2 linked regions of the Homo sapiens genome follow. The protein of the gene in region 2 purifies or fractionates together with the protein of the main gene of each other region. This does not show direct contact. Each region holds a gene or a part of one and is shown on either strand. Other genes may lie near its edges.

Region 1 (3,819 bases), on a different chromosome or scaffold from region 2:
CACCAATTGAGACAATCACCAGATCTTGCATTCGAGGAAGCCCTCCCTTACCTCTACACAGTAACCAAAGTTGTGGAATATTTTTGGCTACCTCAAGTGACTCGATGCCAGGAAAAGTTGAGTCAAAGGAATAGGACAAAAATTCACTTGGCACCAGCTAACGACACCTTCTCACCTCCCACTGACACAGCCTCTTACATCTTTCTCTTCCCCAACCATTTTGGCCTACCTTCTTGCCCTAACACTTCCCTAAGATGCTCATTTCACCCAGTCTTCCCCAGCACACAATGATGGCAGATAGGGTGGTGTGAGCCCCCATGTATCTATGGCACGTTTCAGCAGACAACGCTTCATGCTGACAGCTTAGCCTCACCACTCACTGAAATCACTTGGGTCTCTCCTGGTTTGTCCAGGTTCTCAAATACAGCCTCTTGTTTATCGGCTCGGACTTCAATGAGGTTTTTCTTGTAGTTAACAGTGAGGTTCCGCTCCTGGATGATCTCCTGCAGGGCATCTGCATACTTCTTAACCCCGAAAATGGCTCCAAGAGAAGTGTTGAAAATGATATTGGCCTTGGATCGCTTCCCTGTCTGAGAAAAATAAGAAAACCATTCACACCAAAGCATGACTGCAGCTGCCTTTTTTTTTTTTAATCCAGACAAGAATTAAAACCCTCAGCAGGGACCTTGCTAGCTTTTGCCACCATTATGTCCTGGCAGAGCAATGGGTAGACCAATCCACTGCCTCCTCCTTATGTTCTGCCCATGACATACAACTAAGTACACACTTGAGTTGGGGGCTGAGGTGGGCACTGTCCAGCTGAAGGCCAGAGGTGAAGGTTAGGTCCAGGTCAAGACAGAGTAGAGTAGAACGGAATGTTTATTCATATATTCATGTATTCATTTACTCAATAAATATTTAACAAAGTTCTAGAGTTGGCCAGATACTGTCCTAGGTGCTGAGGGAACAGCAGTGAGCAAAACTGAGTTCCAGCCAGGCGCAGTACCTCACACCTGTAATCCTAGCACTTTGGGAGGCCGAGGCAGGCAGATCACCTGACGTCAGGAGTTCCAGACCAGCCTGGCCAACATGGTTTGAGACAAGCCTGTCTCTACCAAAAATATAAAAATTAGCTGGGCATGGTGACAGGCGCCTGTAATCCCAGCTACTCAGGAGGCTGAGGCAGGAGAATGGCTTGAACCCAGGAAGCGGAGTTTGCAGGGAGCTGAGATTGCACCATTGCACTCCAGCCTGGGTGACAGAGCAAAATTCTGTCTCCAAAAAAAAAAAATAAACAAACTAAAAAACAGTAACAACAAAACCCTGAGTTCCTACCTTCTTGATATTGTTCAGAGAGGCCAATATTCTCCCAAATGCCTAAGATCAGAGAGGCCAATATTCTCCCAAATGCCTAAGATCTTATGGTACTCGAACCTTCCTCGTAGGCCATCTAAGACTTGGGAGAAAAGAGTTACACAAAGAAGTTTCCAGGACGGAAGAAACAGCTGGTTTCTTCTTCTTTCCTTTGCTCGGCTCCTTTCATGATTTGCTCACCCGGATCTCACCATTTGAAGAATTCAGGTGGGTAAGTGTCTCAAAAGGCTGTGCCAGCCCTTTATGACCCAGAATGAACTTTCTTGGGGTCAGAAATGATTACTGGAACTGCCTTTAATTCCCTACCTCACAGGGTTGTTGCAGTTTACAGAGCTCAGGGGAAGGTCTTGATCAGTCCCAGCCTCCATGAGCACATTCAACCACTCCCCAGCCCGTTCTTCCCCACCCTTCTTCCCATCTGTCCCCATACACGACTAGCTGCTAGAAATCCTGCCACTGTCTCAAGCCAAACCGCACTTTGGTAAACTAAATGTCAAACCCCAGGCAAGAGCAGGGAGGGCAAGAACAGCTTCCCTTACAAGCTTAAGCCAGGTGTACTTGAGCTGCAGACAACTGCTCTTACACAGAGAGCATTTGGAGAATGCTGAGAAAGTCTCCTCCTGCCCAAATATCTCTTTTCATGAAGGTTTAAAGTTCTATGAGAACATTTTTTTGCTTTTTAAATTGGCATTTTCCGTATCATATTTTTTTAATGTATACCCAAGGGACAGAAAATATTCATGACCTTAAACTTGAGTGGAAGTAGTGGATAGCATTATGGATAAAAATGAACAATCTGCAACTAATTGTCTAACTATATGGAAATATTTAAACAGTCTCTAACATATCTCTCCAGTAGACTTTTTTTTTTTTTTTAAGACGGAGCTTCGCTCTTGTTGCCCAGGCTGGAGTGCAATGGCACAATCTTGGCTCACCACAACCTCCGCCTCCCAGGTTCGAGCAATTCTCCTGTCTCAGCCTCCCCAGTAGCTGGAATTACAGGCATGCACCACCACGCCCAGCTAATTTTTTTTGTATTTTTAGTAGAGACGGGATTTCTCCATGTTGGTCAGGCTGGTCTTGAACTCCTAACCTCAGGTGATCCACCCACCTTGGCCTCCCAAAGTGCTGGGATTAGAGGCGAGAGCCACCACACCCAGCATCCAGTAGACTTTTACACACACATTTAAAAAGTATGTAACAAAGACTATTTAATATTACATAATACAGCTAAATTTTTCATGTACACTATGACTGTAACCATATTTAAGTATACAGAAAAAAAGCTGGAAAGCCATGTCAAATTGAAAACTGCAGCTTTATTAAAGCAATTGGATCATGAGTGATTTTCTCCTCTTTTATATTTTATAAACTTCCAGTTAACTAATTTTGTACACATGTAATAAAAATTCCGAGATAAAAAAGGGATTACAATAGAGATAAAATGGAATTCTTGCAATCAGTGAATTAGCACTGTCCGCCCTGCTCATCTCTGTCCCCAGAAAGGAAGCATACCTTCCTGAAGTAGGCTTCTGATAAGTACATGATCTTCTGAGGGGCTCCAGCACACTTCACTGGAGTATTTGGGAAGGTGAAGATGGCATTGCCCTCTTTGAAGTCCTGCAGAGCTTTCCATGTCTTCTCTACAGTCTTAACTGAATAATTCGACCCTATTTTGGGATGAGCGAAACCTTCAGGTAGGCCTTTAATCTGCAACAAAGTACACAAAAATTATTTTAAACAAAAGTGCAAATGTCTTTAGAGTCCTTGTTCTTTGCCATTTCTACAACCTTTCAAATATTTCAGTACTATCATTACCCTCCAATACCCACATGCCTAGAGCAGGCAGGTGGGTGAGGGTTCTAAGACCAGAGCTGTGGCACCTGTAGTCACCTGTCAAACTGCAGAATGGGCTCAGCTCAGAGGAACCCTTCAACTCCCTGGCCTTGAGAATACAATTTGAATACAACTTTTCCCACCATCGGAGTGAGGACAAGACGCCAGCCAGCCTTCCTTTTAGGAGACCCAGTTGCCTCACTGGAAAGAACAACTGGCAGGACCAAGAGCCATTTATATCATCAAGAATAGCAAACTTAAATCACTCTTTATCAGGTTGTACCAGACCAAACTCTAGATAAAGGCACTAAAGCCAGGTGCCTAAAAACATGGACTTTAGGATCCCACATACCAGTTTGAGTCCTGGCTCTTCCACTTACTAGCATTGTGACCCTGTGTAAATTACCTAATACTTCTAAGCCAGTAGGTCTCCAAGTGTGGTGCTCAGACCAGCAGCACAAGCACCACCTGGGAACTTGCTAGAAATGCAGATTATCAGGCCCCACCCTAGACCTACTGAATCAGAAACTGGGAGCAGGCCCAGCAATCTGTGTTTTAACAAGCCCTCCAGCTGATTCAGATGCACACTCAGGTTTGAGAATCCTAACG
Region 2 (3,819 bases):
TGCAAAATTAAATTACAAAATCACCACCAGGATATCATACAATCCACCAATCTCATTCACATTTCCTCAGTTTTACCTATACTCATTTGTGGTTGTATGTGTGTATTTAGTTCTATGCAATTTTATCACACATGAAGATATATGTATCCACCACCCAGTCAAAATATAAAACAATTTTATCACCACAAAAATTCCTCCCAATTACCCTTTTATAACCACATCCACCTCCCACCCTCCTTTTTTATAGCTTTTTCCCCCATATTTTCAACAACTGTGTGTTCATTCCATGTATCTTCCTTAACTACCTATGATGTACCAGGCACCCTTCTTTCTATATAATTCAAATAGCATGCATTAACTCTTTTTTCCAGTTTGTAAAAGAAATTTTTCAAAAGACAAGGGGTTTTTGCTTTTGTTTTTGAGACGGGATCTTGTTCCATTACCCAGGCTGGAGTTTGTTCCGTTACCCAGGCTGGAGTACAATGGCAAAAACACAGCTCACTGCAGCCTCGACCTCCTGGGCTCAAGTAATGCTCCCACCTCAACCTCCCAAGCAGCTGGGACTACAGGCATGCATCATCACACCTGGCTAATTCATTTTTATGTTTTTTTAATTTTTAGTAGAGACAAGGTCTCACTATGTTGCCTAGACTGGTCTCAAATTCCTGGGCACAAGTGATAACCCACCTCAGCCTCCCAATTACAGGTGTGAGCCAACTGCACCCAGCTGACAAGAGTTTTTTTTTTTTAATCCAATTATAAAATATAAATATTTAAAAATTCAACTGCAAGTATTGTTAATTGAAAAGACACTTTAGGAACAAAAATAAAGAGTGTATCATTTGGCCAGTGAGGTGACTCACGGCTGTAATCCCAGTGCTTTGGGAAGTTCAGGCAAAAGGACTGCTTGAGGCCAGGAGTTCAACACCAGCCTGGGTAACATGGTGAAACCCCATCTCTACAAAAAATAAGAAAATTAGCCAGGCATGGTGGCGTGCACCTGTAGTCCCAGCTACTCGGCAGGCTGAGGTGGGAAGATGAACTGAGCCTGGGAGATCAAGGCTTCAGTAAACTGTGATTGTGCGACTGCCTTCCTGCCTGGTCAACAGAGTGAGACGAAAGGAAAGGAAAAAGAGAAGGGAAGGCAAGAGAAGGAAGAGAGGGGAGAGGGGAGGAAAAAGGGAGGGAGGGACAGACTTTCTAGAATTAGAAAAAAAAAAAATCTCAATAATACTGAGGCAGGAGAATAGGACCTGGTGGCAGGGAACCTAAGGACTTCCTAGAACTAAATCAAACAGAAAAACCCCAACTTTCTACATCCAAGTAAATAATTGTGTAATTTCCCTTCAGCTATGTCAGGAAACATCCTCTTTATTTGCATAGGGTGTACACCAAGTAAATAACTTTGTAACTTCACTTCATCCTCTTCATTTACATAAGGCATACACTGCATAACCAATGGGAATCCTCTAGAGGGTATTTAAACCCCAGAAAATTCTGTAACCAGCACTCTCAAGCTGCTTGCTCAAGCCCATTCCCACCCTGTGGAGTGTACTTTCATTTCAATAAATCTGTAATTTTCTGTCATTGCTTTGTTTGTGCATTTTGTCCAATTCTTTCTTCAAAACACCAAGAACCTGGACACCCTCCACCAATAACAGTAAGAAGTCAAACAACCCAATAAAAAAGAGCACAAATTTGATCAGACACTTTACAAAAAAATACACAAATGGCAACAAGCACCCGAAAAGGTGTTCAGCATTATTAGTCACCAGGAAAACGCAAATTAAAACCACAAATGAGGTATGTTAAGAGAGTAGATCTTTTTTTTGGAGAAAAAAGCCTGTTGCCCAGGCTGGTCTCAAACTCCTGGACTCAAGCAATCCACCCACCTCAGCCTCCCATAGTGATGGGATTACAGGCGTGAGCTACCACGCCCAGCCAAAAGAGATTTTAAATTTCTTCACATAAACACGCACACGCACACACACACACACACACACACACACACGGTAACTATGTGAAGTGATGGATATGTTAATTACCTTGACTGTGGTAATCATTTCACAATGTATACATAAAACATCACGCTGTCCACCATAAATATATATGATTTTTATTTGTAAATTATATCTCAATAAAGCTAGAGGAAGTTTTTGTTCTTTGGTTTTTTTTTTTTTGAGACAGTCTTGCTCTGTCGCCAGGCTGTAGTGCAGTTGTGCGATCTCGGCTCACTGCGATCTCGGCTCACTGCAATCTCTGCCTCCTGAGTTCAAGCCATTCTCCTGCCTCAGCCTCCCACGTAGCTGGGATTACAGGTGCACGCCACCACACTCAGCTAATTTTTGTATTTTTAGGAGAGACGGGGTTTCACCATGTTGGCCAGGATGGTCTCGTTCTCCTGACCTCGTGATCCACCCACCTTGGCCTCCCAAAGTGGTGAGATTATAAGTGTGAGCCACGGCACCCAGCCTGTTTTTGTTTTTTGTTTTTTTGTCTTTTTAGTGAAGGCAAGTTTATTAGAGAAGTTAACAAAAAATGGCTACTCCACAGGCAGAGCAACCAAAAATATTTTTAAGTAATAAATTAAATTTAAAAAGAATAACTGAAACTCTCATACATTGCTAGTGAAAATGTAAAATGGCACAGCCAATTAGAAAAGTTTGTCAGTCTCACACAAATAAGACACTTATGACCTAGCAATTCTTCTCCTACGTATTTACCCAAGAGAAATAAAAACATGAACATGAAAACATTCAAAGATCTGTATGCAAATGTTCAGAACAATTATGTTCACCATAGCCCAAAACTAGAAATTCAAGTGTCCTTCAACTGGTGAATGGATAAATCGTATCATACTAAGCAATAAAAAGGAACAACTGCCAATAAATTCAACATAGATAAATCTCAACTGTATGATCCTAAGTGAAAAAAGTTAGACACAAAAAACTGTATACTATTTATATGACATTCTAGAAAAGACAAAAACATACAGACAGAAAACAGATCAGTGACTGCCAGATGCTAGAAAGGGAACTGACTACAAAGAGGCATGAGAGAACTTTTTGGAAGCATGAAAATGTTCCCTATCTATCTATCTATCTACCTATTTTTAGAAACAGAGTCTCAATCTGTCACTCAGGCTGGAATACAGTAGAGTGATCATGACTCACTGCAGCTTCGAACTCCTAGGTTCAAGCAGTCCTCCCATCTTAGCATCCGAAGTAGCTGGAACTACAGACATGTGTCACCACGCCAGGCTATTTTTTTTTTTCAAAGATGGGGCTCACCATGTGGCACAGGCTGGTCTCAAACTCCTGGTCTAAAGCAATCCTCCAGCCTCAGCCTCCCAAAGCATTGCCATTATAGATATGAGCCACAGCGGCCAGCCCTATATCTATATCTTGATTGCAGTAGTGGCTACACTAATGTATGTATTTGTCAAAACTCACTGAAATGTTCACTTAAAAGAGTAAATTTTATTGCATGTAATTTATACTTTATTAGATATTGTTATGGGATCTTTAGGGTGTCACTTTTCTGGCCAGAAACCTGTGGCTGGTGGCACCTCTGCCTGAGTTTTGCTCAGACCTGCTAGCCTCATTCCCACCCACTCGGCCTTGTAGGCTACACTCAGCTCACGCTACCAGCCTGGATCCCATGCCTCCAAGAAAGACTGGAGTCAGGCGTGGAGTGGTGAGGGGTGTGTAAGCGAGCGTACAGTCTGGCCATTGCCCAGTCAGACATGTCAGCTGCTGCCACAGGGTGGGCAGCTCCAGGTGCTGGCATAAGTGCCAGCTCTCTGCGAGGCTGTGGCTG

What was found.
Region 1: the proteins of SBF2 (region 2) and SQOR purify together in Homo sapiens (affinity purification with mass spectrometry, with the first as the bait; one large-scale study listed by BioGRID). This does not show direct contact.

The regions. Positions count from the first base shown.
Region 1 is NC_000015.10:45,672,872-45,676,690, reverse strand, and holds part of SQOR (sulfide:quinone oxidoreductase, mitochondrial), read right to left. Parts: intron 3,085-3,819; coding exon 2,890-3,084; intron 591-2,889; coding exon 381-590; intron 1-380. UniProt on the Homo sapiens protein: Catalyzes the oxidation of hydrogen sulfide with the help of a quinone, such as ubiquinone-10, giving rise to thiosulfate and ultimately to sulfane (molecular sulfur) atoms.
Region 2 is NC_000011.10:10,284,185-10,288,003, forward strand, and holds part of SBF2 (myotubularin-related protein 13), read right to left. Parts: intron 1-3,819. UniProt on the Homo sapiens protein: Guanine nucleotide exchange factor (GEF) which activates RAB21 and possibly RAB28. Promotes the exchange of GDP to GTP, converting inactive GDP-bound Rab proteins into their active GTP-bound form.